Regions from separate parts of the Homo sapiens genome. Here region 1 is linked to region 2. Evidence: fine-mapped expression QTL. A gene starts in region 2. The other region holds a variant in brackets. All regions are shown on one strand. Distances are from middle to middle.

Region 1 (15,742 bases), 150 kb before region 2:
AGGGTGGGGACCCCTGGGTAGAAGAGGCCAAGAGCTTTGTGCTCTATTGAGGAAGCTGCAGAGGAGGAGAGACCCAAATCAACATGGGGTGTTCATGCTCTGTTCCTTGTACCTCGAATGGTGGCACTCTTGCCCTCTAGACATTGCTAAGGACTTAGAGGTTCAGGAGTCACAGGCAAAAAAGGCCCCTTTTTAAAGTGTTTTTAAAAGTGACCGGTGGGGTGCTGTTTTTCCGGGAAATTGAACTGCATAAACCACAGCCACTGACCGGGAAACGCCTGCCACCACCAAATTGCCCCCGGGAACTTGGGGCACAGCGTCCCAGCCCTGGGCCAGGCAGGTTCCTATAGCCGCCAAGTGGATTACACACCCTGGCTTCACTTCAGTGGGCTTGTTGACCCTCAACGTACTCTCCCCATGTTGTTTTACTCCCCTTTTTAAAAATTCTGCATTTCATTCTGGACCAAGAAAGCCCTTGGACTTGAGAGAAAACTAGTATCTGCTCGAAGCAGGTTTGGAGGGGTCTCCGTCTCTCTGGGAGCTGCAGTTCCCGCCCCAGGCCCAGCGGCTGCAGGAGTGGGGGCTGCTGGGCTTTCTGGGCTTCCGTATCTTAATTTCTGTTTAAAGAGAACGTAGAAAGAAGGGTGTGTGTATCTGTGTGTTGGTGGGGAGAGAGGGCATAGAATATTTTCAGGTCTTAAAAAGAAGAAGAAAAAAATAAATTTTTGAATAAGAATGGTCCATGTACTGTGACCGCAGGGCAAATGCAAATGTCTGTTTTCAAACACAGACTCGTGAATTCTTATTAGGAGTTCGTGACTGCGCCTCCAAGCAGGACATTACATATTCATCAGTGTGAGCAACCAGGCTGCCCACTTCAGGTGTGGCCTTCGCAACACCCGTGTCCCTTTAATCTTGGGGGAAGAAGGAGAAGGAGAAGAAAACCATGACCAGCCACATTTGGTCTGTTTTCTTCAGTTGCTAAAGTGTTAAGGGAATAGGAGATAAAAAGATGCATGCAGAAAAAGCAGCAGCCGCAGCGATACTCCACAAAGATCTTTTTAGTGTCAACTTAAATGTACACAAATAGCGGATGATGATCTCTTTTATTGGACTAACATTTATCCAGTAATATCCACACACTTTTAAAACCATTGAGGCCTCCTCTTCAGGTGTTCATTTGAATAGAAATAGCTGAATGAGTGTTTTTATAATTGATCCCCTGAGAACTGAATGTCTAGTGCTGCATAACCAACATTTTCCCATTGCTGGGTTTTTTTTCCCCCAAATTGCCACTCTGCAAAATTAGGATTTTGTACAGTTTTGATAAGAGAATTAACCTCCCACGTGCCAAACTCCCTGAGTATGAGGGACTCCCAAGGAATCGGATTGTGCGAGGTCAGCTTTGACACCAGATATTTTACGGGGGCTTTGCTGCTGCTCAGTCTGAGAGAGGGAACCGCAGAGATCTGGTGGGAGGTAGACTTGATGGAGGCAGAGGGAGAGGAGGAGGCTGTTGCACACCCTGAAAGGTTCCTGGACCCCAGAATCTTGCGCTTCTGACTTTTCCTTCTGCACTTGCCAGAAACACCCGGACGCTCACTCTGGCTCAATGTGGCGTCTGTGGGTGCTTGGAGCCCTGGACCTTGATGGAAACGTGAAAGATTTTCCTTTCCTCTCCCTCGAAGTGTTTCCCCCAGGGCTGCCAAGTATGTCCTCAGAGTCTTCACTCTAGTTCTTAAGTTACAATCATAATATATGCTTATTGTAGAAAACTTGAAAAATGTGCAGAAGTATAAAGTCGACAATAAATATTACCCCAAATTCCACCACCCAAACACTGTGGTGTTTCCTTCCAGTCTTATTTTATGTGTGTGCATATTAAAAAAAATATATGTATATGATCATACTGCATACATAGAGTTTTGTAACCTGTATTTTTTTCTTTCATTTAATAGTAATATACAAAGCATCTCCCGTGTCTTTAAGCATCATCTGTCAGCATCAATTTAGCGGCTGTGCACACAGCTATCAAATGGCTGTAGTTGAATGAACTTAATTACCCTCTATTGATGGACAGTTGGGTGGGGAGCTTTCTTTTTTGACTGTGTAAAAAGGAAACGTCAGTCTCTGGCCATTTTGTGGGAGACTTATTTAAACCAGGGTAAGACAGTTATTTAGGAAACAGTTTTCCCTTCATGGCCTAGAAGTGAAGGAAAGAGCAGTTTTTTGCAGCAGAAACTGACCAACGTGTCTTCAGTAAGACAAGCCACAGGGCTCAGGGCCAGGGGGAAGCTGGAGCAGCCGGTCTGGCTCCCCTGTCACTCCTAGTTCACGCTGATCCCAGCTCTGAGTCCTGGTGTCAAGGAGGCTGCTTTCAGCTCCAGACAACAGAAACGCTGCTTAACCCGCTGCAAAAGCGAGTACGGGGACTGCATTACCTGATGGGCTTTCCTGAGGTGATGCCACCACCACGAGAGGCCCTGGCTCCTTGGCTCCCTGGCCACCTTCAGCTCCTCCGCATGGCTGCAGCCTGGCTGCCCGCCTCAGTCCCGCGTGCCACCCAGACTCAAGGCAGTCCAAAGGTGGAAATTGGACTCTTTCTTCAAATGGGATTTTTTATAATTTTAATTTTTAATGAGCAAGCAAAATATTGTCCAGAAGCCCAGGCCTTTCCTTCCTCCAACTCCCCGCCCCTGTCGTGGACTAGAATGGGGACACACGCCATGCCCACGCATAAGGCAGGCACTCCCTGGCAAGGAGAGTGAAATCCGTGCCCTCCTGACACTATACTTCGGGTACCTGGGATGTGCCCTCCTGCCCTTCTGAGCTTGGAATCCGGAAGCCCCAGCATCCCGCCTTCTCTAGGCTCTTCTTGGCAGTGGGCATTGACCCCTCTAAGCTGCTGGCTCACCCAGACCCCGAGGCAGCCCACATTAGGGACCAGAATGTTAATTGTCCCAGCCCTATCAGCTGGTGGGGGGACCTGGGGCTGTGATCCAGTGTGAGACTTGAGCCAGCCTCAGTGGTGGTCTTCCAGATCCCACTGAGTGTCCCCAGAGCTTTGGTGACAGCCCTGCTTGGCTGGGTCCTGATAGCAACCTCTGTCGTCTGCTCCCCTGCCATGTTGCCTGCCCTCTCAGTTCTACCCCTGCTACTTCTGAAAATGGCATGTTAATTTTCCCATGGAGAACCCCTCGTCTATAGGCAGCTCATTTGGATAGAGCCCCCACCTTGCGCCTAGTGCCATAGGTGGCCCAGAATGTTGCATGCCCAATCACAGTACCACATGCCTACACCAATCTGATTGGTTGCTGCGGGGTGGGCATGTGATCCAAAACTAGTCCAGTAAGAGTTGCCCTCAGGATGTCTCCTGGGCTTCATGGGATCTTAAGATGAGCTGGTGGGCGCCATCTTACCACCACAGGGAAGCGTCTGCCTGAGAACCAACACAGAGGAAAGCAGAGTTAGAAGACAGAGAGCCCAGGTCCTGAGGATGTCAGTTGAACCACTGGATCCAGCCATGCCTGAAGCAATTTACCTCTGAAATGATCATTTATGGAAGCCAACAATTTTCCTTTGCACATGGACCAGTTTGAGTTGGGTTTTTGTTGCAACTCAAAAGAGACCTGACTGAAATACCTATTCAATAGGCTACTCTTCCAAAACCAGAATCCCTTTGTCATGCCTATAACCACCAACACTGTCCACATACTCCAGCCATTGTGCCCGTTATGCCAGGTTGGATCCACCCCCCGTGCTGTCCTTCTATTTCTGATGTCAAGGCAGGTCAGGCCCCAATGACCCTGACTTTGCCGCTTTCTTTGGGTGCCGAAGGCTGAACAGCTGGCCACTCCTCCTGGAGCCACTTCCTGCAGTCCACAGAGCTTCTGTGCAGAGCTGTTTCCTGAATGCCCAATGAATGGATCTGGTGACCTCTTTTGAGAAGTCAGGCAGAAACAGGAACGGTATCTTCCCCTCCCTCTCTGCATCGACACCTCCATTTTGCCCAGGCGTTCACAATTCCAGGGGTAGTTTCCTGATAATTCAGCTGAAAATTTCCCCGGCTCAGTTCTGTTTCCCTGAGTTGCCCCCCTGGGCTTTTCTCTAACAACTCGGCTCCTTCCTGAGGCCGTGAATGGGGCGCATCTCTGCCCACGTCACTGTTCAGCCAAGGTCGGCACATTTCCTGTGTTCATTCTTCTTCATAAATCACATCTCCAGCCTGCTAATCGCCGTGGACGCATTTCGAGGGATGCTTTGCAATTTTCACTGGCTCTGGTGTTGAGAGGTCCCCTGGCTGCTTCTAGGCAAGCCAAGGGCTTTCCCTCTAAAAAGCCGTGTGTCCCACATCCAAGTGCATACGCGGGTTGAGAGGGAAGGAAGTGGATGAAGCAGGCCTGGAGGAAGATGCTGAGGGCCCGGGACCTGCCCCCGGGAGGCAGCTACTTCTCAGGCCAGCCAGCTGTCTCCATGTGGGAACCAGGCCCAGCATTTGCAGAGGTTATAATTTCTCAAGGGAAGCTGCAAATCTGTGCTTTTATGTGTAATTTCCCACTTAACAAAAAATGCCAGCAACAAAATAAAAATTGAAACGCCGTGGAGACCAAAATGGTCTCTCACACCACCAGACTGTGACTTCTGTCCTGGTAGATTAATAAAGTGACAGGGTGTTAGGCCACTTAGAGCAGGGTGGCCTAGCGAACAAACACAAGGCTGGGAACCAGAACCCATAGGCCTGGATCTGGTCCTAGCCTGGACACTGCGTGATCTTGGGCAAATAAAGAACTGAGTCTCTAAAAATTCCTGTTGTCCACAGTCATCTTCTTAACCCTTACAAGAATCTCATAAGGTGGAGCTCATTATTCCTATCTTGCAGAAGTGAAAACCCAGCTCAGAAGGCAGCTGCAAGAGGGCTGTTGGTTCCCACAGGCCAGCTTGCAGCTCTGTTTCTGGGGTGTTGGGGAGACTACTGTCTGGGCGAGCAAGAGCTGGATCTGTCTTCAGCAGCTTGAGCCGGTTGCAGAGTCCAGCATTCTTCAGGGTCACAGGTGGCTTTTCCTCCTCTGGATCTGAGATTTTCTCTCTGCTTTCCCTGCCCTCCCCTCTCTATGCTCAGCATATTTTATTTCTGTAGCTCCATATTCTTGCCATGTCGCTGGTTCTGGGTGATGTTTCAAACACTGTTGGCACTGGGTTAGAAATGTCATTATCTAACTCAGAAAAGCTCCAAGAGGAATGTTGTGTATACGCATCTTCTCCCCATGAGCTTGTCTCTGCCTTGTGATGAGAACTATGAGGGCGTAGTCTTTGTTGCTTTCCAATCTTCGATGCTCTTTCCTTCACCTAAGACGCTGCTTTCTGAAAAGAGAGAGATTCCAGAGCTCAGCCATTTAGATCCATGAGTTCTCGGCACTGGTTCTTCTTCCATTTTTGTTTTGATAATAGTGCTTAGTAGTGATAACAGTGATACACTGGAGTGGCCCCTTGCTTGCCCAAGGCCGCAGGCTCTGAGGAGATCGCCACAATTTGTAAGAAGCTTTGAGCTTTTATACTGTTGCATAAAACAGAAAAGGGCAAGCTGTGTGTATGCTCCCATTTTACAGATGGGAAAACAGAGGTCATGCCTGGTTAAATAACTTGCTCAGTAAACCCACCTAGCCAAGTAATAAGTAAAACTCATTTGGCCCAAATGTTTGATCTTAAGGTCTACAGTAGTGGCCTCCCCCTCCCCCGCTTAACCTCGCCCCCACTTGCCTTCGTTGGGGCATATTCACTCATTTGGGTTCAGAAGCAGAACTGACATTCTCCTAGACATTGTCATCTGGTGCTTGCTCTTTGTTCTGTCTCTGCATGGTCTCTTCTTTGGGAAAGGTCCTCCAACTACTGAAATATGAAACCAGGAGTGGGCCAGGGGAGGGGAGACGCGTGTCTTGTGCTAGGGCTGGATCTGACTCGCTGTGAGACTTTGGGAGTTTTTCCTCACTCTGGGCTTTGGTTCTTTCTTCTCCAAAGGGTGTGGGGGAAAGGAGAAGGGCTAGCCCGGGCTCCAGGAGGCAAATTGGTCACATATAGGCAATTGGTTCACAGCTACATTTGAATTGGTTGCCAACCTTTAGAAACCAGGAAATGTCAGGTCAAGAGCTAGCTCACCACCTTTCTTGAAGAAGAATATGTGGCCCCTTCACACCATTAGGCTGGAGGGAACATTTCCACTTGTCACCGTCCCTACCTGTCACTCCTCTCAGTGACACTGCCTGCCTGGCCCTGCAGGCCCTGGGTGTGGGACTCCTAGCTCAGTGGCTTTCAAGGACCCAGCATCCAGTCCCAGGGGTCTCATTCCCTCTGAGGTGGGCACCCCTATAATCCTCATTTTCAGATGAGGAAACAGAGTCACTTGCAGTTTGAGTGACTTGCCAAAGGTCACACAGCTGGTCAGCAGCAGAGACAAGACTCCCCCTAGGCTTGTAGACTGTGGGGTCGGTTCTCAGTTGCTGGAAAACAGATCTTGGGATTGAGTTCTTCCAGCAACACAGGTGTGCTTCAGCTTAAGAAGTTTTGAGAAAACTTGATTTATTTTTATTGTTATTATGGAAACTTTAAACATGTGCTAAGAGTAGACAGACTCATGTGATGAACTCATGTGCTCATCACCCATTTCCAACAATTTTTATGGCCAGTTTTGCTTAATCTGTGCACCCGCACCCCATTATTTAAAAACAAATGGGCACCAGACATCGTATCCTTTCATTTGGGAAGATTGTAGTGTGTCTCTCTAAAGGGAGAGGGTTCTTTTTCAAAGTATAACTGTAATATTACTGTATTGTCACACTCTCCCCAATAATAGAAAATCCTTAATTATGCAGGGCAATTTCAGTGTGAACTTACACCGCTGATATGTCTAGAAAGGATGGCCATCATGCTTGCTTTCAGAACGAGCCAGCAGCACCCCAGCTTTGGAATCTGAAGACTTGGGTTTCAGTCTTGGCTTCCTTATTTTATTTTTATTTTATTTTATTTTATTTTATTTTATTTTATTTTATTTATTTTATTTATTTTAATTTTTTGGAGACCGAGTCTCACTCTGTCTCTCAGGCTGGAGCGCAGTGGCGCGATCCCAGGTCACTGCAATCTCTGCTTCCTGGGTTCAAGCAATTCTTCTGCCTCAGCCTCCCGAGTAGCAGGGATTACAGGCGCCCGCTACCACACCCCGCTAATTTTGTATATTTAGTAGAGACGGGGTTTCACCATGTTGGCCAGGCTGATCTCGAACTCCCTACCTCTGGTGATCCACCCGCCTTGGCCTCCCAAAGTGCTGGGATTACAGTCGTGAGCTACCGCGCCTGGCCAGCTTCCTTACTTTCTAGCTGTGGGACCTCAGGCTGGCCACTAGATCTCTGAGCCTCAGTTTCCTTATCTGGAAAATGGGAAGAATCCTAAAATTTATCCATCTCAAAAGGCTCATGTGACAGTCAAGTGAGAAGGCGTACATGCAAGGTATCCTGTCAAATTACACAAAGTCGTGATTTTAATGGAGGAAAGCAACATAAGTACTGGGTGGTGGAGAAATACTTTTGGGTCTCATCTTGCTGAGACTAGGTAGGAAGCAGAATAAGAATAGCCCTTCCTAGGCGCCCACCGGAATGCTCAGCGCTGCCGCACAGAGAGTCCGCATCCGTGCCTGCCACCGGCCTAAGTTATACCCGGAGCTACGACGACTTATGAGATGGGCGACTCTAGGACCCTCATTTTCCAGACGAGAAAACGGAGGCACCTGCAGGTTCAGTGACTTGCCCAAGGTCACGCACCTGGTCAGCGGCAGAGACAGGACTCCCCCCGCCCGGGCCCGCGGATTGCCGGGTCGGTTCTCAGTCACCGCACAGGTGCCCTGGAGAGTGCGACCACCCCCTGCCCTCCGCCCCGCGCCGGCCCTCGGCTCAGTGCCCCGCCCTTCCTGGAGCACGGCCTGCGCATGCGCGCGCCCCAGGGCCCAGCCCTGTTCCTGCTCCGGCTCCTGCGGGGATGGATGCTTCACGCAGTAAGCGAGTAAGCGAGCCCTGGAGACCGGGGCCCTGGGTGTGCGGTCGGCTCAGTGCCACGCGGTGAGATAGGCATGGTTATCAACCCACGCCAAGGCGGTTGTGTACCTGGCATAGAAAACACTGCTGTTGAATGTTGTTTCCATAGTCATTCGCCAGCGTCCACTGATGAGAGGTGCCACCACGGACACCCGGCCTTGCTCCGTCGAAGCTTTGGTCCATTAGGACCAAAGTCAGGCCCCAGCGGGCCTCCCTGCCATTCCTGGACGGCCTCGCGTCCTCCCAGAGCCTGACCTTCTCTTATCTCTGCAGCCTAAGTCGCGGAAGCGTAGACACCCGGCTTTTCCCGCGTGCTCTATCGGGCTCCCCTGGACACGGAGGGTGGAGCAGAAAGAGCAGAGGGGCCGGTGGGAGCCATGGGGAGTCCGCCTAGCTCCAGAGGTAAGGGCGAGAATGGCTTCATCCTCCCCCCTTCATCCTCCAGGCCAGCCTCGGACCCAGCAGCATCCTGCCCAGGGGGCACCCCCACCTCCCTGGATGCCAGCCAGAGCTGGAGAATATTCACGACCCAGAGGAGGGCCTGGACTCCAGAGAAGGGACCCCCTTTCACAGTGCACTCTGTGTCTGTGTGGATCTGATTTCATGTCTAGTGACCACTATTTTTATCCTCCCAATTCCTAGGACACCTTACCTGGATCCGCCTT[T/C]GTAGCCTCCTCCTGGCTCTGGGGGCTGTCCTGTGGGGTCCGAGTAGCTGAAAGACAGCCCCTCCATGTGAGGAAGCCCCCAACTGGGGAAAACCCCCTCGTGGACTCATTCCTGTCCCTGCATGTGGCCTTCACCTGACTGTCTGCATTGAGGCATCCTCTGCCAAGAGCAATTTCAAAGTGGCAGGTCTTGGGAGATGGGGTGCTGTATTTGGGAGTAGGGGCGGGGAAGGGTTGAGGTGCCCTGGGAAAACTGGAGGAAGACATTTTTAATGCTCTTATGAGGCTGGGAGCAGAGGCCAAGAGGGGCAGAGCAGAGCAGGGGTGAGGAGAATGAGGCACTGGCCTGGGCACAGAATTGAAGGGGCACCAAAAATCGCAATCATCAAGGGAAATCGTATTTTAATGCCATATTTTAAAACTCAAAATTAACAAAAGGAATCCATGATGAACGAACTATCAACATTTCAAGTAAAGACAGGATCTGTTTCATGGATATCTCCTTTTGCCTCAGGGTCCAATATGGAACGGCATAGTTGATTCTGTCTTTATTTAAAATTTTTGGCGGCGCGCGGTGGCTCAAGCCTGTAATCCCAGCACTTTGGGAGGCCGAGGCGGGTGGATCACGAGGTCAGGAGATCGAGACCATCCTGGCTAACACGGTGAAACGCCGTCTGTACTAAAAGTACAAAAAAATTAGCCGGACGTGGTGGCGGGAGCCTGTAGTCCCAGCTACTCCGGAGGCTGAGGCAGGAGAATGGTGTGAACCCGGGAGGTGGAGCTTGCAGTGAGCCGAGATGGCGCCACTGCACTCCAGCCTGGGTGACAGAGCGAGACTCCATCTCAAAAAAAAATGATAATAAATAAAATAAAATTTTGATTTTTTGTTCATCGTGGATTTTTTTCCCCATTACTTTTTGCATTAACATTATTTATCTTGAATTCTGGCTGCTCTTAAATTCTGCACCCAAGGCAAGTGGGCTTCACTCTAGTCCCATTCCGGGAGGACGGTGGATTCGTGAGCATTCGGGAGACCACCACAGGACCCTTAAGCTGCTTCATTGCGCAGTGGGATCCCCTGTAACCCCAGACTTCAGTAATAATCCCACACAGAAAGGTCTTACGTGAGTGTTTTCTTGTGAAAATTAAAGGAAAGTGCTGCTTTCAACATCTGCCACATTTGCAAGAAGAGCAAAGGTGGCCCATTTGAGACCACCCTTGAACTAAACCATCCAGTGAGCCCCTGAGGTCGGGACAGAAGTGGCCATGACCTTCCTCAAGCAGGGACTGTGGTGGAGCCCACCTTATCCAGCACAAGGTGGCCTGCTGACTTCTGGTGACAGTGATGCCAACTTCCTGGCTGTCCAAGGTTCAAATCTTGGTCTTAATCCTCCTGGCCTTCTCTCATCAATGGCCAGAGCCACCCTAGCTAACAAGGTGCCCAGGGACTCCGGGGTGGGAGAAGTCCAGCTTCTTCTTAGCTGAGGACATTTGAGTCTCGTCACAGCCCCCAAAAGAATACTCATTTTTGTAGCTGGAGGGCCTGGCCTCTGTCTATCTTTGCTTTTCCAGAAGCTGACAAGTACCTGCCGGAAAAACTGCCTCTTTTCCCTCCCGTGCTTGGAGCAGGCATTGCTGACAGATCACAGCTGCTGGGCCCAAAGGTCCCTTTGCACGCGGGACTTCAGGAAGTTGCTGCTGACCTATGGGAGTTGGTGCAGAAAGATGAAATTTGTTATCCTTGGCTGTATCAACTCTCTCTCCTCTCCTTGGTGGTGATAGTTTTGTTCTTAAAAGCCTCTTGTGAGAGAATTTGTGGATGAAGAACCTGTAAGATCACAAGTGAAACAATTTATTGATGTCAATAGATTTATACACGTTCATTAAGAATCAAAACTAAACTAAAACATCAGTCTGACTAAAGAGACCACCACAGATATTTCATATGCTGTACATCAGTAACAAAGGGTACCAAATAGTTAATATCCATGTACTAGTCACATGAGAAATGTTTTAGGGTCATTGACCAGTGTAGTCAGTACAGTGGTCCCATGGTATTTGTGGGGGATTGGTTCCAGGAATCTCTTGGACACCAACTCCGTGGATGATCAGACAATATAAAATGTGGGTCAGGTGCGGTGGCTCATACCTGTAATCCCAGCATTTTGCGAGAATCACTTGAGGCCAGTTCAAGATCAGCCTGTGCAACATAGCAAGACTCCACCTCTAAAAAAAAAAAAAAAAAAAAAAATTAGCCCAGTGCAGCGGTGTGCACCTGTAGTCCCAGCTTCTCATGAGGTTGAGGTGAAAAGATCACTTGGGCCCAGGAGTTTGAGGCTGCAGTGAGCTGTGACTGCCACTGCACTCCAGCCTGAGTGACAAAGCAAGTCCCTGTCTCTTAAAAAATAAAATAAAATAATAGCATTTGAATGTAACCTACACACATCTCCCATATACTTTAAATCATCTGTAGATTGCTTATAATACCTAATACACTGTAAATGCTATGTAAATAGTTGTTATTCTGTGTAGTTTTTAAAAACGTGTATTTCTTATTGTATTTTTTTGTTTGTTTTTTGTTGTTTTTGGAGACAAGGAGACAAGGTCTCACTCTATCACCCAGGCTGGAGTGCAGTGGCACCATCTCGGCTCACTGCAGCCTTGACATCCTGGGCCCAAGCGATCCTTCTACTTCAACCTCCCAAGTAGCTGGGAATACAGGCGCTTGTCATCATGCCTGACTAATTTTTGTATTTTTGTAGAGATAGGGTTTCACCATGTTGCCCAGGCTGGTCTTGAACTCCTGGGCTCAAGTAATCCTCCTGCCTCAGCCTCCCAAACTGCTGAAATTACAGATGTGAGCCACCACGCCCGGCCATTATTGTTGTATTTTTATTTTTTTTCAAACATTTTTGACTTGCGGTTGGTTGAATCTGTGCGTGTGGGAAGCATAGATACTGAGGACTGTAGTTTCACCAAAATGCTTCCAGTCACTGTGCCTTCCACCAGCTCCCTCACACATCTGGGTGCATGACGTGTCGTGGGAAGAGTGTGGCCTCCAGGGCCCACCAACCTAAGCTTCAATTCCAACTCCACTCCTGCGGACCAGTTACTTCCTTGAGGTCCATTCTTCTCATTTGCAAAATGGGAGAACAACTTTTCCTCAGGTTGCTGGGAAGATTAAACAAGATCGTGATTCAGAATGCTTAGCATGTATGCTCATGACACACTTAAAGAATGCCGGCTACCCTTTCTGTTCCCCTTGCCACACTTACTCCCTCGCTACCTTCTCTGTGGGGGTCCTTCTTCCGAAAGTCAATATATTTCTGATTTAAGACTTGGCCTCTCTGAGCCCCACCATGGTGACTCTTGATTTGAATGTAGATATCCCACATCTCAATGTAGATGAAAAGGTGGAGCTGAAAATTTATACCAGAGTCAGATCCAGGTTTTAGGGGTCCTGGAACCTATACAATTTGGGGCGCCTTCTTACAGAGCTATAAATTCTAAATTCAGCTCAGGGTCTTGGAAGGTACCTGGGCAAGTGAGGGGGCCTGGAGCTTAAGTTTCACTCGCTTCTCGGCAAATCCCCTTTGATCCACCCACGTTAGAATTTCACATGCAGTAGGCCGGGCACGGTGGCTCACACCTGTAATCCCAGCACTTTGGGAGGCTGAGGTGGGCAGCTCACTTGAGGTCAGGAGTTTGAGACCAACCTGGCCAATACAGTGAAACCCCGTCTCTACTAAATTACAAAAATTAGTCAGGCGTGGTGGCGGGTGCCTGTAATCCCAGCTACTCAGGAGCCTGAGGCAGGAGAATGGCTTGAACCTGGGAGGCAGAAGTAGCAGTAAGCCAAGATCATGCCACTGTACTCCAGCCTGGGTGACAGAGTGAGACCTTGTCTCCTTGTCTCCAAAAACAACAACAAACAAACAAAAAATACAACAATAAGAAATACACATTTTAAAAAACTATACAGAATAACAACTATTTACATATTTTAAGACTGTGTCTTAAAAAATTCCACACAAGTGAGCTGGGGCTTAGGGACCTTTCTGTTTGTGTGCCTCAGAGCCTAGACGCAATGCTTTCCTCCACAAAGACCTCCCTGGGGGCTTTCTGGAAGTCCCAAGAGCAGAGCCTGGGGAAGGGAGACCCATAGGGAGGGCAATGCCCTGACCCCCTCACCCATGCCCAAGTGCGTCAGTTCAGGACGAGAGTGGGGAAAGCCCTGTACTTTGCCAAGGCCGCTCTTGAAACCCAGCCGACATCCCATCAGAAGGCTCCCTTACATGTCCTCTGCTGTGGGACTGAGATGGCACCCTGGCCCCTCCCCTGGAGCCAGAAGGCAATGGAGCAGGGGTCCATGGAGCCTGCCAGGCCCACCCGAGCATGTTCAGCTCAGAGATGCAGCTCCCAGCTCCAGGCCTGGGCCCCAACCCACCTCTGCCTCCTTCTCTTTCTGGTCCTCCTCCCCTCTTCTCCTTCCTCCTCTCTTCCCCCTCCTCCATCTTCCCCCTTCTCCTCCCTCCTCCCCTCTTCTCCTGCCCCTCTAGGTTCCTTCCCCCTCCTCTTCCCCCTTCTCCCTCTTCCTCCTCCTCTCCTCTTCCCCCTCCTCTCCTCTCCCCCTCCTCTCCCTTTCTCCTGCCCCTCTAGGTTCCTTCCCCCTCCTCTTCCCCATTGTCCCTCTTCCTTCTCCTCTCCTCTTCCCCTTCCTCTCCTCTCCCCCCTCCTCTCCTCTCCCCCTCCTCTGCTCTGCCCCTCCTCTCCCTTTCTCCTGCCCCTCTAGGTTCCTTCCCCCTCCTATTCCCCCATCTCCCTCCTCCTCCCTCCCTCCTCCTCCCTCCGTCTTCCTCCTCCTCCTCCCTTCCTCCCCTCCTCTCCCCTTCTCCTGCCCCTCTAGGTTTCTTCCTCCTCCTCCCCACCTCCTTCTCTACCTCCTCCCCTTCCCTCTCTCCAGCCTCCCCGGGGTAGATGGGCTCTGGAGACCTCTTCTCTCTCTAGAGGTGTCTGCTAGAGTCTACAGGACCCGCCACCCACAGCCCCTCATGCTAACACAGGCCCAGCTGAGGCATTCTGGTTATGACGGAGCTGTCCAGTTGCCTGGAAAGGGCTGACAGCAGACACAGCCCTGGTCGGGCAGAGCAAGTCCCCGGCCAGCTGGTGAGGGGATGGGCCCGAGCCAGGTAATTATTGCCTGGTGCAGAGGTCGAAAGCCGCAGAGCGGCTGATGTACTAACGAAACACAAATGGGACATCTGTGTTCAGGAGTTCAGCAAACCATGGAAAACCCAGCTTTGCCAAGAGTTTATCTACTACTGAGATCAGGGACACTCCTGCAGCTAAGGGAGCAGTGCGCACACCAGAAGCCGTTTCCCCTGCTGCTCCACTTTCCCCTGCTGCTCCGCACACCCTTTATCTAGGGGCATGGCAACTTTTTCTTCCCTGGGAAATTGTTGGAGCTGGAAGTGTGTTCACCTGTGGAGCGCCCTTTCCTGGTAGTTTGGAAAGCCCTGATGCCAGGCCTTTGGATGCGCTCCTGGGGAGGGATGGTGGTGAGGGTGTGTTTGCCTCCCCACAGGTCTGGATCCGCTTGGTCCAAGCTTACCACTTGGTCTGAGCAGATTGGGGCCTTTGCCTTCCCAAGCAGCACCAACACAGGGCATGTGGACACCTCTGAAGGCAGAGCCAAGAGGGCCCCAGGAAGGGGCCGAGTCCACACGTTTACCAAGCAGATTGTCAGAAAGAGGAGTGAGGGGGTGCCTAGAAACTGGGGTTCTCTCAGACCTGCATGCACGGCCAGCGCAACCTCTACACGTCACATGCCTGCTGGGCCCCAGGTCACACCTGTAAAATGAGAGCGTGGCTGAGGGCCGTGTGTTCATTCGGACTCAAGCAACAGAAACCGACTCTGTCTTATCTGACAAAAACAAAAAAAGAGTCTCCTGGCAGGAAGTGAGGGTGTTTTGTGGACTACAGGAGGCACTGGCCCAGGAAGAATAGGTAGCCGTGGGGACTGGGGCAGCAGGAGGCGGTGGCCGTCTTCTGGGGGCCCAGCCCTTACAGGACTCAACTTCAGTGCCCACTGCCCTGTGTCTTGGTACCACCAGGTGTCAATTCCCAAACTCTGGTGGGCAGACTCTTTGGCCCATCCACTTGGGTGTCTTTCCAGTGCATGGGTGGGGGATACTCAGGACCTGGACTGCACAGGGTGCTACTTCTGGAAGAGGGGGAAATTGCAGAGAGCCAGCCAACCATGACATGAATACTGCAGCATCGTGACGTGCAACTACAAATGGGTGTGCCTATCTCATTGGGGTCCAAAGCCAGGACAGCCAAGGCCCTAGCCTGGCTCTGCACTCCTGAATCTGTGCCTCACTCGCAGCCCCCACTTACCCTGGGGCCATGCTTGAGCTGGGGACCAATGCTTTAGGAAGCACACTGCAACTGCAGTCCACATTTGCCCTCAGGAGGCTGCTGCTTCTATAACCACGATGGCTAACGCATGCTGGGGGCCCAACCCTAGCACCTCCCAGATTGTTTGCTAGGTGCCAATTACGGGACTGGGGTCTTAGCTGACAGTTGCTGTGGCTCATGGCAGTGGCATCAGGACCCACCTACCCCTCCCCCCGCTCTGCCAGCTAATGGTGGCCAAGTAGGGATGGGGGTTGGCTTTCCTGAGGCTGAGGCTGAGTCTGGGCTGTGTGGCCCTCCCCAGGCAGCAGGGCGTGAGAGTCAAGCCATGCTGAAACTGCCCCATGAGCTGAGGCTGTACTTCCAGCAGGGCCTGTGCAAGTGCTGGTCTTAGAGGGGCCAGAGTGTGGTCCACAGTCAGGAACGTGAGGCCAAGAGATGGATCTTGAGAGATCCAACTCTTTGTTGAGAGGTGGATCACAGCAGAAGGAGATCAGGAGTGAGGGGTGGGTTGGTAGGACAGCTGACTCACCCTCCTGGGGCCAGTGACCTCCTTCCTCCACTCCTTTCCCAGTTGGTTGT
Region 2 (15,742 bases):
CAAGGTGTTGGCAGGGCCGCACATCCTCCAAAGGATCTAGAAGAGAATCTGTCCTTGCCTGTTCCAGCTTCTGGCGGTTCCTGGAGTTTCCTGGTGTTCCGTGGCTCATGGCAGCATCACTCCAATCTCCGCCTCTGTCTTCACACGGCCTTCTCGGCATCTGTTCTCTTTTCTGTGTCTCTTGTAAGGACCCACAGTTGGAGTTAGGACCCACCTGGATAATACAGGATCTTGAGATCCTTCAGTGAATTACATCTGCAAAGACCCTTTTTACAAATAAGGTCCACATTCAGAGCAGGCAACAGGATGTGGACACAGCTTTTTGGGAGTCACTGTTCAATCCACCATGAGACCCCTCCTGTGGCTGCCTTCCATACTAGTGCCTCCTGCCATCTTTACCCACCTACCCCTCGCCCTGTGAGCAGACAAAGCACCTTCTCAAACCACGCTGTTCTGGGGCTTTTGGTTCTGAAGGCCTTTGAAGCTGCAGCCTTTGGGGCTACTCCTCAAACCCTGATCACAGGATGAGACCTAGTGTTGGGGCATCCCAGTCACCTACATGCTTCTCAGAGCAGGTCTTAACAATTTGTCTCCTTCAAGGGCTGTTTCTAGACTTGCCTCTTCATCCAGCCTTCCCACCAGGCATCACAGCCCGAGGCATCCGGCCAAGACGGCTGGGGACCGAGTCTCTCAGCCAAACAGGAATGGCGCCCACCAAGATATTAAGGCCATGCATTAGAAAGCACAGGCCCAGAAGGTAATCAAAGGTAATGTAGCTTTGCTCACATTTCAGAGCTTCCGTTCCTCTTTTGAATCTCCCGGACCTTGGCAAATCTCCATTCTTTACGGGTAGATTTGATTTTTAGAAACAGTCAGTAGCCATGGGGGACTAAAGCAGCTCCTGAGATGGATGACGAAAAGCTGGAGAAACCATTTGGAGTCAAGAAGGATGGCGGATAAGGAAGCCGGGAGGGGCGCAAAGTAGAAAGCGGTTCTGAATGTGGCATGGGGGTTGAGCCCCCCAAAGTCACTGCTGCCAAGGGAACAACATGCACACTTGAAAATTCTCACATTTTTGTTCTAAAAAATACTCATTTTATTATTTGTATCACTCAAAAATAACTGTGAGTAGTTTTATGGGGGACATTTGCATTTTTGCCTCCCAGTTCTTCTTTCTCTTACCCTCAATAAGGGTTTAGAATTGGGAGATTTGATCAGAAATCTGAATGAAGCTGTAGCCTCAGCCATTTGTTCTAAGCCCTTTATGTTTATGAGCCAGAAAAACATGAAACAAATTTGGGGTGAGAGAGGCTAAGAGAGAGTCGCTAACTTTTGAATTTTGTCAAAGTTGAAAATGTAGAAAGAAAAAAAAAACAGCTTCTCACATACTGTCACCATAATTTCATAAACAAAAGGATGTTTAAACAGCAAAGAAGAAGTAGAAATGACATCATCTCATAATAAAACAGCCCTTCCGATGGAAAGGATTTTGCTTTATGAAAAACTCCACATATTATCTTCCTTGTTCTCACTTGGCTGTAGGTTAGTGAAAACTTGTTATAAACCAGCACCACCCGTGAGTCATGGGCTGCTGTGAATAGGAACCTGAAGGCTAAAAATCCTAGAGCCAGGTGTTTACCATACTTGACCTTTACTCCTGACAGCAGCGCTGCACCGCAGACACCGTTAGCTCCATTTTATGTATGGGAGAAGTGGGACTCTACTGGTCTAAGTGATTTTGCTCAAGGGCCACAGATCCAGCTATGGTAGAGAGGAATTGGAACTTCCGTGGCCTTGACTCCAACCCCTGTCTTAGTTTCCACCAAGGACATTGTCTCTCACTCAGCACAGGTGTGTTCTCCATTTGAACAGCCTTGGGCTCTACAAATTCACCGGCACAAGCATTCATGGAGCCATTTCTATGTGCAAGGCTCTGTGCTAGGTTCTGGGGTGACAGCGATACATAAAACACGATTCCTGACCTCAGCGAGCTCGCCCTCCCATTGAAACAACCAACAGATTCACATAAAGCCACTGATGAACGCAGTAGCGATAGTCATCCCAGTCACTGTGAGAGTTCACAAGGTCAGGTCCACGTGGAGTCTGGATGTGTAGACAATGAGCTTTAAAAGGGCCACACTTTCAGGAGACACTCTCACACTGCTGGCCAGCATGCAGACCTTTCCAGAGGGCAATTTAATAATATGTTGTTTTTTAAAATATGTATTTTCTTTGACTGCACAACTCCACTCCTAGGAAATTATTTTAAGGACATAGAGAAGTGTGCAAAGACAAATATACCAAGGATGTTCATTACAATCCTACTTACAACACTGAGACCTGTTTAGAAAATAAATCCTTGCCCTCAAAGAGAAATGTGCTCTATGAGAAAGTATAAGCAGAGATGTCTCTTCTTTTTCCATCAAAGAAGAGACAGATGTGCGGCCTGGGGTCTGACAATGCTGAAACCCGACTTTGTGACCTTGAGCAGTTACTACCTCCTTGGTCCTCAGTTTTGGGCTCAGGAGGTGGGATAAGAGAAGCAATGTCCCCAGAGCCATTGGAAGGTGGGCTGCATCATACAGGACACAGAGAACCGTGGGCTGCATCATATAGGACACAAGGAACCCTTGGCTCAGGTCCTGGGAGAGGGAAGACACCCCGGGGGTGGGAGCTAATTAATACTATTTTAAAAAGTGATTTCTGACCTCAGCTTAAAAACCCTTGGAATTACAGAAACCTGGAGCAGGGCAAGTTGAAGACAGGGATGAGCCAGGGGTGATGGGGAGGAGCTGCTGGTCTGTCCGAGGGGAGCTCCCGGGCTCCTGCCCCTGGGAGCCCCTCCGCTTGCAGGAGGGTGCAAAACCGCAGGTCATTTATGCTCCCCTGGTATTTAGCATGAGAGGAGGAGTAATTGCCCTGGCAGTGTCCTGGCTGAGTTCCAATTTGGGTGATTACATTCTGCCTACTTAAAATTCCCCTCTCTGGTATCCATGGTAGAAGCATTCTTCAAACCCTCTCCTGTTACGGGGAAAAATAAAATAAAATAAAAAGAAAGGAATCAGCCCAGCCTTCTGTATACACATGGTATAGAGGGTTGCTCTGTGCACCCCAGAAGTGGTTTCCTTTAAAAAGGGGGGTGGAGGATCCCCAGTGGAATAAATCCGTCAAACATGTTGAAATTTTCCAGAAAGAAAGATTTTGTTTCAGGAGGGAAGACAGTGTGGGTGGGAGCTCTGCGGCTGAGTATGGAGAACACTTAGGTGAAGAGAGTCTTTTAGGTGAGGCCGCTGTGTCACCTGCTTGGGGTCGCACTGGTGGGCTTGGGGCTCAGGCCTCAGTCCTTTAACCACTCCCCCACCCCCTCACCATAATGCCTCCTGCCTGTTGCATTCTTGATGTTGCTTAATTATAGAATATAAAATTGTTTCTTTTCATTTGGATGCTATTGGGAGTGATGTATGGATAACAGCTTGAGAATTCAAATTATTCTACAGATCAACATGACCCGAGAGAAGAAAAAATGTTTTGACTATTACACTAAACAAACCGGGCTGGATGTCAGAAAGATGCTGGGCTGTGCACATCTCCGCGTGCACGATTTGCACTCGTCCTAAGTGGCTTTATTAATTAAAGCGCACCAGGACTTTGAAACATTTGTACCAAATGTATTTTTTAGACACACACACACACGCACAACAAATGGTTCGGTAAAAGCAGTAAAGTTGGATTTCAGAAAGTAGCCCCCTCCCTTCGAGCTCTTCCCGACTTGCAAGTGATCCTTCAGAAGTCTCAGCTTCCTATTTCCATGGGTCTGAAAGAATCACAATTAACCCCTGATTTACGGGAGGGCTGTAGAGGTATGAAATGTGAGAAACCTCGGCAACAGAGACAGAAACGCAGGAAGACTCGTGTGCAGGGATGATGCGGGGAGAGCCTGTCTTCAATCACAGTGTCTGTGCCGGCGAATTTACGATAGTGTCAATGCACAGCTGAATAAAAAGCCAAAATATCCACTACAGATGAAACCTGTGTATCTCTATATGTATTTGCCCATCTACCCATCCATGTTTCACAAAAGGCAACTGTCCCTCGCATTCCTGTGTTCAACCTCTCCCTATTAGGCAACAATGGCTGCAAGCTCGTTGGTTTTGGTGGATTTGGCGATTCTCATGCCTCTTTTGATGACCAGGTGAGACTGAAATAACACATGGTTAAACTGCAGCTTCTCTCGTCTTAGTCCCCCACCCTTAGACGGACAAACAGCCAAGGTTGCATCTTGCCGCGAGTTTTTGTTCTGCTGATGTTCATGTGAGCAGAAGGAAATCTTTCTACTTGAAAATCCTAATGACTTGGAGGGATGTGTTCATGCACCTGGCTCCTCTGGAGGGATAAACCTAACTGCCAGTGTGTCTTCCACAATGAACCTGCGAGTGCTCCTGTCACTGCAGCTATAATTGCCTAGAAAGATCGACCCTCTGGTGAACAACTGACTCGACTCCATTGCTTAACACTTCGAATGCGTTTCCATCCCAGGCCTGTCCCACATGGTCGGGAAGGGGGTGTTTTGGTGTCAGAACAAGAGAGGGTTTCGGTCAGAGCCCTGGATCTGTGCAGCGAGGCTACCCAGTGCTATTTGCCTGCATATCTACATAAACTAATCCTGGCGAGTGTGATCTTTGGTGGCCCTCAGCTAGGAGGTTCTTACCACAAGTCTGGCTTGGGTTCCATCTGCAAAAAATAAGACACAATAAAAAGGCTGAGACTCAGCAGTAACCCAGAGAACAAAGTGACAGGTTTCAATTTCCTCCAAATTGTACATATATTTTTCCATAATCATATTTTCTAGTATCCAAGCCCTGTTTTAAAAAATTTTTAATGCATGCTTAGACAAATTATTTTAAAAGCTCTGTGAAATATTAGCACCATTTTAGTAGGTATGTCTCAAAACAATATCATACAAAAGAAAAAGAGGAAGAAAATAAAAGGAGATGTTTCCAGTAATGGTCAAAATATACCAATCTGTACACCCCTTTCAGAACTGAATATTAGTTTTCTTGTCCAAACCATGATGTATTAATATCACCACTTTAACAATAGGCTTTTATTTTCTTACAGTGAAGCTGACTGACAAGGGATGAAGAGTGAAAATTACAATTTGAGAACCTCTTTGGTCAGCTATTGGGAAAGAATGAACTCTCCCCTGTGCAAACCACCTCACGATTTTTCAGGAAGCCAGGGCGAGGAACTTGGATTCCAAAGCCTAGAGAAAGATGTGAGCTGCAAAACTTTCTTTTGGTGGGTGAGGAGACTGGCGTGGGGAGAAGCGGTTTCTGCTGGAGGCGTCTCCACTGCAGGGTGGGGGGGCGGTGTTGGGAGGACTTCCACTTGCTGGCGATATTGACTAGAAAACAAGACTCATTTTGTCTATCTTTTCCTGGATAAAGGACTGATAGGCTCCCCCCACTGCAGCTGTTTTGTTCTTCAAATATATTATCACTTTTTAAACGGATGGTAAAGGAAAAAAATGCATTCATTTTTTCAGCCTAAGGAGACTGCAGGAAAAAGCAGTTCTGCTGCTGAGGTACAACGTAGCATAATGTTGTTTTTCAAAACACCACCAGTTCTGCCTTCCCCTTTTAATGGTATTCATTTTCCTTCTTAGAAAAGGGGTTAAAATTAGTAGGCACATTTCATATTAGCGTATTTCATGCAATAAAGCATAAATTATTTAAAATAACACGACCTTTTATCTTGCACCTTTTGAAGGAAGCAAATTAAAAATGTAAATTGGGAGCTAATTAATATGCAAATGTATTCATTCGCAGTTAACAATTAGCAATTAAACCTGCAGTGTCTACAAAGAGCACGGACAAAATTAGTAACTTAATTTATCATTAAAAAATGAAAACGTACACAAAATTTTAATTGACTTTCAAAATATTTCCCCTGCTTTTTTCCTTTCATTTTTTAATACCAAAAAAAAATTTTTTTAATATTATGCCTTACCTCTACAGATGAAATTGGGTACATGCAGTGTTCAGGGGAGTTCATTAAATAGGATTGGAGAAAAGCATGTTAGGAAAAGTTTGCCTTTTACATGAGGTATTAAAAGATGACATTTAAGAGTGTTGACTTGTGTTGCATAGTCGAGTTCAAGAGAGAAATAAATACATAGATTCTCCTGTGTTTGGGAATATAGAGATGGCAGAGATTTGTAGAGATAAGGGGGAGTATATGCGGCTTATGCACATAGATGTGGGACCGGCTGTGTGTGTGTGTGTGTGCGCGCGTGTGTGTGTCTACACCTTCTAGAAGACACACAGCAAACGTACAGGGTCATTTAAATGCTTCTGGTTCAGCTTTGAGAATTCCAGTACAAAACAGTTGCATGGAAAATCAGCAACAAATAGCTTAAGATGTAAATAAGATACTCTCGGTTGATCATGAGACACATTAGCATTCTATGTTTCATCTATCCCTCCTCACTACAACCCAGACACACATATTTTCCACTTTCTGTTTTCCTGTAGAATTTAAAGAGCAAACCTTTTGCATATTTTCCTGAATTTGGGGTTCATTTGCTGCGTCTCCTCACCATCAGCCTAGCTCTGCCTGCAGATGTAGCCTTATATTTTTACACACTCCCTTTCTAATGTCATGCAGCATAGGAAAGAACCCAGCAAACATAGGATCTGTTGCTTGCAACCTTATTTTGGTTATTTAAACAGCACCTGCTGCTCCAGCTCCATTGAGAGCTTTAAGTTTCATTCACAAGTGTTTTCTTTTGGTTTTTCTTGCTTCAGGGCTGACTCGGGGCGGCTGCGCTGCGTTCTCTCCCCTGTGAACTTTGCTCACGTTTTGGACTGGGCAGCATCTCGCGGTCTGCTCGAGCGGGCTGCCCTTCTGCTTAGAGCTGGACAGTGTTCTCGTCTGCTAGAACGGGATTTTATGGTCAACAGGACATTGCCATGTGTCACTGCAACACTTAGAGGGTAGTTTGAACTGGGATTGAAGGTCTGTCTGGCTGCTTTCCCCGGCAGGCCCCAAACTGGCTTGGATGCAATTGAGCCAGCATTTTCCAAGGTACTCTCATTCACAGTCATAAGGGACAAACGCATCTCATGTGAAAAACTCAAAGGCCAAGGAGGCCAGGGCATGAAGTATTAAGTTGATTTTATTCGGTTTCACAGAAGGCAGTTCTGTCTTGTTGACTAGCAACATTGTGACAAATTGTTCTCGATTAAATGCTTATTATGTGTTTATTTAGCTGTTTGCCTGGAACTAGAGAAGAAAAAAAAATGTGTTACAGTGTATGGCAATATTCTATCCTTTCATAATTGTACCAGAGAAATATGGCATTTTCTCTCCTAAATTTGTACTTATTTCGGGCTCTCTCACACTCTCCTGACAAGTCTGATACTCCAGAACTTCCCAACAATAAGAGAGACCAGGGAAAACAAACAAAAAAACTTGGTTTTAATGGAAAATAAGAGAAGAAGCTAAATATAGCTCTTGACTTTCACAGAATTGTGATTCAGATCTGCTAATTTCTATTTGCCTGGGAGAAATTTTAAGAGTCTCATCGCACCCCCCCCCCCCACCGCCCCCCGCCCCATGGCCATCCCCACCTCCCTAGACTGGAGGGCCCGGAAATAATGACTGGGAAGGAGTTTACCTGTCATCTGTGACACACCCGAAAGAAAGGTTTTTCAGCCAGGGACCCAGCTACAATGCCCAGGCTGGGAACTGTGTGGTTCAGAGGTTCATAGAAGGCATTTAGGAACCAGCTTATAAAAATTAATGTTTTCTTCTTTTATAGGAAATATGCACCATTCTATTTCAGTATGGAAAAAATACGGACCTTGTCACTGATCATTTTTCATGGACTATTTATTTAGGTTTTGAGCAGCTCAGAAGCCTTTTTATTCCTTTTGAGCTCCCCTTGGGATGCTGAAGAGAATAAAGATTTCTCCCTTCCAATACCGTGCACACATTTCACTGTGGGAACTGTCACCAAACTAAACAAAAAACTGAGTCCAAGCACCTTCCACCTCGTTGGCCAAAAAAGACCCAAACGGCCCTCATATTTTTATTTTTGCTTGTGCGCCTGCGATATTAAGCAGCTAACAACAATCTGAGAATTAAGTTACCACAATTAGGAATTAGAAGCAGGTGGCATAATAATGGCGCTTTTTTCATTTCATTTATTAGCAAAAAGAGAGAGAGGAGCTTCATTTATTTTCATCAGCGCCTCAGTAAAAGCATAGCAATTTGCAACACAAAAATCATTTCAAGTACCTCAGCCTTGTGCAAACCTTTTTTTTTTTTGTTGTTGTTCCTTTAAAAGCCTTTTAAAGTTCACCACCTCCCCCGCCCAACCCCATTCTGAAAGGACGTGCGTGTGTGTGGAGAGGTGAGTACTGGTGGGATCAGACTATTTCTCCCCCAAAGCAGTTTTGGGGGTTCCATAACCCAGGGAGCGAGGTGTGGGGCATCTCCTGCCCTGCCTGCCTCCGCCTGTCTCTCATTTAGTTTTGCACCGGCTTGTTTCAGTCTTGCAAAGATTTAATGCAGGGGCAACCTCTCTCCAAATAAATAAAGTGAGCAACACCTCTTTGCATGGCACCCTCCCATCAGCCATCCGGGCCAGCGCCTCCAGCACCCCACTGCCCGGCTCCGCGGCACCCCACTGTCCAGCCCCTAGCACCCCACTGCTGGTGCCGACACCCGCAGGCCCTACGCTTTTTGCGTTTCTACCCGCCGCTCCTCGCAGACCTGGCGCGGCGCAGCAACCTTTGCGCGCCCTCTAGCGTCAGCATCGGGGATTACCACGAGCTGGCCCGCACGCCGCCGCCGCCTCCAAGCACCACCCGCCCGCGGGAGAAGCAGCCCGGGCTGCAGCAGAGGCTGGGGGGCGAGGGGGGCGAGGGGCCGAGGGGGTGCCTGGGCTCGTGCATTTACACGAAGTCCCTCCGAGACGGAGGCGGGCGTGGGTGATTTTATTGCAAACTTTGGGGAGCCCCTTCCTTGGCTGCGGCCGCCCGCTGGTGTTGCCCCCGAACCCTGGGCATGGGGCGAGTGGCCCAAGCCCGGACCCTTGGAAGTGGCGCGGCGGGGCTGCCTTTCCTCGGGTGTTCGCGGCTCGGCGCGACCCTCTCTCCCGTCTGCTCCCCGCCGCTCTGCTCGCCCCCTCCCCTCGACCAGGTTCTGGCTTTCTGGCCTGTTCCGGCCTGGGGGACTCCCTTGTCCTGTGCCTCCCCATTCTACTCTCTGTCCACATACCCCTGAGTCTCTCTTTTCTCCCTGTTTGATTTATTTTAGAGCAGCGGATCACAATTTCTGACTTCCACTTTGCTCTGTCTGCCTTTCCCCATCCTACAGCATTCTCGCCGTTTGTCTTTTTTTCTTCCCTGTAACTTTTTCTTCTCTCTCTCTCTCCCCTCCCTACCTGTCTCCCTCCCTCTCCCTCCCTCTCTCTCCCCCTCTCTCTCTCTTTCTCTCTTTTTGAGAGAGTCTCCCTCCAGGCTGGAGTGCAGTGGCGCGATTCCGGCTCTCACTGTCGGGTGCCCGCCACTATGCCCGGCTAATTTTTATATTTTTAGTAGAGACGGGGTTTTTCCATGTTGGCCAGGCTGGTCTGGAACTCCTGGCCTCAACTGATCCGCCCGCCTTGGCCTCCCAAAGTGCTGGGATTACAGGCCTGAGCCACTAGGCCCTGCCTCTTCTCTCCTTTTCTGTTTCTCAGCCTCCAACTTCATATTTCTGTTTATATTCTTTCTGCCCCCTGTTCCCCAGGGAGTTTCACAGAAGAGCCACAGGCCTCTAGCATAGTCATCTAGAATGCCAGCCACCTCTTTTCCGTCCAGCGTCTTGGAATTAGTCTCCACTGGATCTTGCTGCCTGAGCTTCTGGTCTGCAGGGTGACAGGTGCCTTCTGCAGCCCCCTCAGGCCAGGCTTGTTTTTGTTTGTCCTTTGCTTTATAAACACAGACAAATAGCCGTTTATTTGGAATTCACTGTCCTCATTGAAGAGGTGGCATTAGGTGAGTGTAGGAATGGTGATGGGGATGGGATACCAGAGTCCAGAAGGCCGTGGTCACGGAGAATCCTCCACAAGCTCCCAGAGTTTGGACTTTCCAGGACAGCCTTGCATCTTCCCTGCCGATCGGGCAGCCTTGGAACCTGGCACAATTTTATTAAAGATATGTCCAGTTTTAGTGGCCACCAAACTTTTCAACGGTTGTTGGTATTTGAGAGAAGTCTCCATCACCAAAATAATAAAAGGAATTCAGATAAAACAATGAGTTAGTACATGAACCTATGGAGTGAGGAAAGATTACAATAAAATCAAAGGCTGGTGAGGGAGGAGAGAAGACAGGATGTGCAGTGGCATAATCTTGGCTCACTGCAGCCTCAACCTCCTGGGCTCAAGCTATCCTCCCACCTCTGCCTCCCAAAGTGTTGGGACTACAGGTGTGAGCCACCACACCTGAGCTTTGGGGGTATAAATTGGTAAAAAGAAATTTGGCAATCTGTATTAAGAAACTTTAAGATACTCCCACCATTTTTTTTTTTTTTTTTTTTGTGATGGAGTCTCTCTCTGTTGTCCAGGCTGGAGTACAGTGGTGAGGTCTCCACTCACTGCAACATCTGCCTCCTAGGTTCAAGCAATTCTCCTGCCTTAGCCTCCCTAGTAGTTGGGATTACAGGCATGTACCACCACCTCCGGCTAATTTTTATATTTTTAGTAGAGACGGGGTTTGGCCATGTTGGCCAGACTGGTCTTGAACTCCTGGCCTCAGGTGATCTGCCCGCCTTGGCCTCCCAAAGTGCTGGGATTATAGGTGTGAGCCACCGTGCCCAGCCAGATACACATATCTTTTGATCCAGTAATTCCACTGCTGAAAATCTATCCCAAAGAAAGATTCTGAAACGTGGAAAAAGCTGGAGAAGTAAACCAAGCTGCCATACTTGAAAGAGAAATTGGAAATAACCTAGATGTCCAACAAAAGTGGATGACGATTTGAGTAAACCAGGGTCCACCCGCCACTTAAAATTGATGCTGCCGTGGAGAACCATGTTGGTAAGAGTACAGTAACCTGGGAGTGCAGGTGATCGCGTGCTGAGACAAAAAGCAGGATTCAAAGCTGAATCCACAGCATGATCACGAAAAAGATGCTCCACAAAGTAAAAGTTACACAGAAAATACCCGCACAGTGCCTGTCTTTGTATGGTTGGAACTATGGGCAAAGTTTTTCCTCCTTTATCCTTCCACTTCTCTTTTGCCTTCTAATTTTCTTGAAAGAGTGAGATTTTACTTTTAGAATAGAATAAAAGTCACCTTTGTTTTTCCTTTTTAAAGTGGCTGTGAAAGCGACACGGGCTCTGTGGGAAGAGAAGTAAGGAGGACTTCTGGGAAGGAAACGAGGTTCTCGGATGAGCAGGGGCTGTGATATGAAAGTGATCAAGAGGTGAGTGTGTGGGGGGTAGGGACGGAGCATGGGTTTTGGAGAAAAGTGTAGCTAGATTCCAATCCGGCTTCCACTCCATGAGGTGGGGCTGTGCTGGGCTCCACCAAAGGCTTGCTGCTGCCTTAGCTGTTAAACACGGGCTTGGTTTCCTCAGCAACTGACCCGAGCACTGTGTATCTGTGGTCATCACCATGCTCCTGTGTGCTGATGAAACAAGGAACATACACAGTACAGTCTCACTGGAGAGAAAGCTACTTCCCGATGGGTGTCTTAGCCCAAGCCGGATGATCTGTGGGCCAGCACCTGAGCACCTGAGCAGTAGTTGCAGCCCTGGGCTTCACCTGCTCACACAGGGCTGTGTTTGGACAGGTGCATCCCAAAGCGTGCTCCATGGAGCACTGTCCCCAAGATGGTCCAAAATGCCTTGACACATGTATTGAGCACCTACTGTGTACCAGGGCTGTAAATTCCTCAAGGGCAGGGAGCAGATCACCCAGCAAGGGTCTCACTACAGGGCCAGGTGTGGTGGCTCACACCTGTAGTCCCAACACTTTGGGAGGCAGAGGTGGGAGGATGGCTTGAGCCCAGGAGGTCGAGGCTGCAGTGAGCCAAGATTATGCCACTGCACTCCAGCCTGGGTGACAGAGTGAGACCCTGACCAAAAACGAAAGAAAGAAAGAACAAGCTAATGAACGAAAGAAAGAAAGAAGAGAGAGAGAGAGAAAGAAAGAGAAGAGAAGAGAACAGAACAGAACAGAAAAGAAAAGGAAAAAAAGGCTCAGCACAGTAGAGGAGCTCAACATCTTAACTTTCATTCATTCAACCCATCCTTCATTTGAGGCTGATCCTTGGTGAAATTGGGACATTGAGGAAGCTTATTTTAGCTGACCCTTCATCTTCCATGTCACAGCTTCTCTTCTCTTGCTAGAAATTCATCCTGCCTCCCTCCTTCCCTACAGTGCTAGCTAATAGAACATTCAATGAGGATGGAAATGTTCTAAAACGTGTGCTGTCCAATGTGATTGCCACTAGCCACATGTAACCACTGAGCATCTGAAATGTGTCTAGTGCCACCAAACTACTGAATTTTTAATTGTAATACATTTTAATCTAAACCAAATAGCCACATATGGTTAGTGAGTACAGTATTGGACAGCACAGCTCTGTAAAAACCTGTCCTCAGTTTTGCCTCTGGTCTCACTCAAACTCAAATCCATCTTTTGTGTCCACCCTGTGATGAGCCCTTCAGGCCTTGCTCTAGATGTCACTTCAGTGGCATGCTGGAGTCGGCCTCCACTGGCTGGCACCAGCTTGCACCAGCTTGCAGGAGCACATGTTTGCATCTCTTCCCAACCTGCAGTGACTTAACATTGGTAGCTTGACATCAGCAGCTATGGAAGCATTTACACCATGGGAATGGGCAAACACTACACATCAGGTCTGTTTCCCCCCAGAGCCAGTCATTAAATGGCAGCGTTTACACCAGGGGAGTGGGCAGACACTACACATCACGTCTGTTTCCCCCCAGAGCCAGTCATTAAATATTTTCCAGTGTATCCATGAGTCACAGGGCCAGGACTTGCATTCCCCACAGACTGAGTGTCTCCTCCAGCCTTGCTCACCCCCATCCTGGCTCTGCTTTATTCACCTGGCTTCCCAGTGTCAGGTTGGGCTCTTGGACTGGGATCCTGTGGCTCCCAGGGCTTCCAGTTCTCACTGGACTCTCACGCTGCAGTTTTATGTCTGCTTCCTCCATTAGTTTTATAATCTTTTGAGAATAGGTAGCTCCTGTGACCTGTGAAGTGCTGAATCCCCAGGGCCTAGCCCATAGTAGGCAATCAATAAGTAGGTATGGAATAAATAAAGACAGCATGGTGGAAAGAGTGTGCAACTGGGAGCCTGTATCTGGGGCCCTAAGTTGGAATCTTGCTCTGCCTGTTACCAGCTGTGTGACATTGAATCTGGCCCCTCTGTGAGTCAGTGTCCTTGCATGTTACACAGGCATAACAATCCCTTTCCTGTCCACCTCGTGGGGATATTGGAAGGGTCACGTGACATATAGGAGTGCTTTAAAAGACCATGCAAATAAACAAATCGCTTTTGAAAGTCCAGGAAAGCTGACCATGGTGGTGTGCCCCTCTAGTCCCAGCTACTCAGGAGGTGGAGGTGGGAGGATTGCTTAAGGCCAGGAGATTGAGACCAGCCTGGGCAACACAGTGAGACCCCATCTCTAAGAAAAGAAAAGAAAAGAAAAGAGAAGAGAAGAGAAGAGAAGAGAAGAGAAGAGAAGAGAAAAGAAAAGAAAAGAAAAGAAAAGAAGTCCAGGGACATTGTGAATTCAGTTTGGTCTTTTGCCGTCTTGGGTTTGTGAATCACACGGGCGAAAGAGGACCATAGGGAATCTGCATTCTCCCAGTGTGTTAAATGAAATGGGACAAGCACAGCAACCCTCAAGGAAGGGAGAGGAGGTTGCACGTGCAGCTGGCCGGGCAGGTGGCCTTGAAGGGCAGGCTGCAAGCCCCTTCTCTCCCTTAGCAGAAGAATTCAGCCTGGCTGCGCCCGAAGATGGTTCTGTCCATGGCCTTGTACGAGGAAGGAGGGACTGATGGTTCACGCTGAGCTCTTGGATGAGAAATGGTTTCTTTCTGGCATTTAAGAAAGAAGTTCTCTCTTTAAAACCCACAAATGTTTGTTAGTTATTTTTCTCCTTGAGAAATGTTTTCCTGAAATCTGCGACGCCGAGGCTCGTCGTGGGCATTTCGGCTTCTGTGGCCTGTGAAAGTTGACTGTGAACGAGGGCTGCTCCAAAGGGGTTAATTGCATGTAGGCATTGGAAAGTGATTATCTAATTAAACTTTGAAATGGAATGGTAAAAACACTGGGTGACAGACTGTCTGTAGGAGGGTCCCCTGAGGTGTTCTCCATTTATTGCTAATCATCTCTGCCCAGGCTGTGCCTGCCTCCAGCGGAGCCCGCCTCAGACCTCGCTCTCTGGAACTCTGGCTTGGCTCAAAGATTTGTCAAACAGACCTCCCCCTCGGTGTTCCGTGCCCTCCCTGAACTCTGCAGTTGAGCCTGGATGTCTTGGAAGACTTTCGTCACTTGTCTTCAGCTCCGCAATTTCTATTTAAAATTGAAAGGTTATTTCTATTCTTAGAACCATGAAATCAAAGAAATGTGAAGTGTTGGGAGTTAATTCTAGATATTTATGAATATTGCCCAGAATATCTGGGTTGGAGACCTAGCATACCAGCCATAAAGCACATGTATTGTACCCCTTGCATTTAAGTCTGCCGGCGTTTATTCAGTCCTCTGAGCCAGGCCCCTGCTAGACATTTTGGTGATGGAGAGGTGACGCTGATGAGTACCTTGCTGTAAAGCCACCTTCAGGCTGGAGGGGCACTGCTGGGTGAATGCACATTAACGTAGCTCTTTGTAACTTAGAGAGCTCTCCTCATTCCCGCCTGGCCATTTTATAGATGAGAAAACCGAGGCTCAGACTTGCTTAAGAGACTTACCGGAGCCCCTCAAAGCCAGGCGTCCTGACATTAAAAGCCACTGTTGCCTGCTGCCCCGGGGTAAGCAGCTGTCTGTGCTGGATGCCGGGGGGAATGGTGAAGATGGTACGCATTTCTGCGGGAGGCAAAGAGGGAAATTTCATAGAGGAGTTGGCATCTGAGTATGATTTTAACAGCAGGGGCCAGGCCAGGGAAGGCACAGAGAAAGGCAAGTGCACATTGACTTTGGGGACCAGCAAGTTGGCAGGAGTGATGTGAGACCTTTTTTTTCGTATTTTTAAGTTTTGAATGATTCCTTTATTCAGCAATAAATGCTCAGTGAGTACCTATCCTGTGTTGGTGCATGGAGAGAAACATTCTTGCAGAATAGTTGCAATCTTCTGGGCAAGACAGCATGTGCTCAGAGCTGGGTATTGGGAGACAATGCCGAAGAAGGCTGCAGGCATAAAGATGGGAGAACAGATCTGAAAGCAGCTTAAGCTGAAATTCCAGAATTGCTTCCACTTCCTTTTTGGTCTAGAATCAAGGTGCTGGAGTTACTCGATTTCCCCTCTGGAATTGTTTCGTGGAGCAACACTTTAATATTTTGCCCTCAGCAAAGGTTCCACGGTGATGCAAGAGCTGCCCAAGGAACATCACTGCATTTTTTTTTTCTTTTTGTAAAATGACTATTGGGGATATAATTCATTACACTGCTCAATGCCACTTAATGCAAATGTCTCTATGACAAGTGCATTCTAGGGCACTGGG

Direction of the effects. Alleles are on the strand shown, and positions count from the first base shown. SD is a standard deviation of normalised expression in the study named.
With allele C in place of T in region 1, the expression in lung of the gene that starts at base 8,396 in region 2 is lower (small effect, 0.23 SD a copy in GTEx).

Evidence for each region. PIP is the estimated chance that this variant, and not a neighbour inherited with it, causes the effect.
Region 1: its variant is fine-mapped to the expression of LINC02299 in lung (GTEx, PIP 0.97).

What each region holds. Positions count from the first base shown.
Region 1 is chr14:96,584,770-96,600,511 of GRCh38, forward strand. No RefSeq gene overlaps it. Among named protein-coding and RNA genes, the nearest start is that of PAPOLA, 90 kb to the left of the region's middle. RefSeq lists a silencer at 7,862-8,041. The variant T/C (reference allele first, on the strand shown) is at 8,744.
Region 2 is chr14:96,732,796-96,748,537 of GRCh38, forward strand. It overlaps LINC02299 (long intergenic non-protein coding RNA 2299), which reads left to right and starts at 8,396. Exons shown (of 4, transcript NR_146552.1): 1 at 8,396-8,416; 2 at 11,366-11,474. RefSeq lists an enhancer at 8,062-8,562 and a silencer at 8,898-8,947.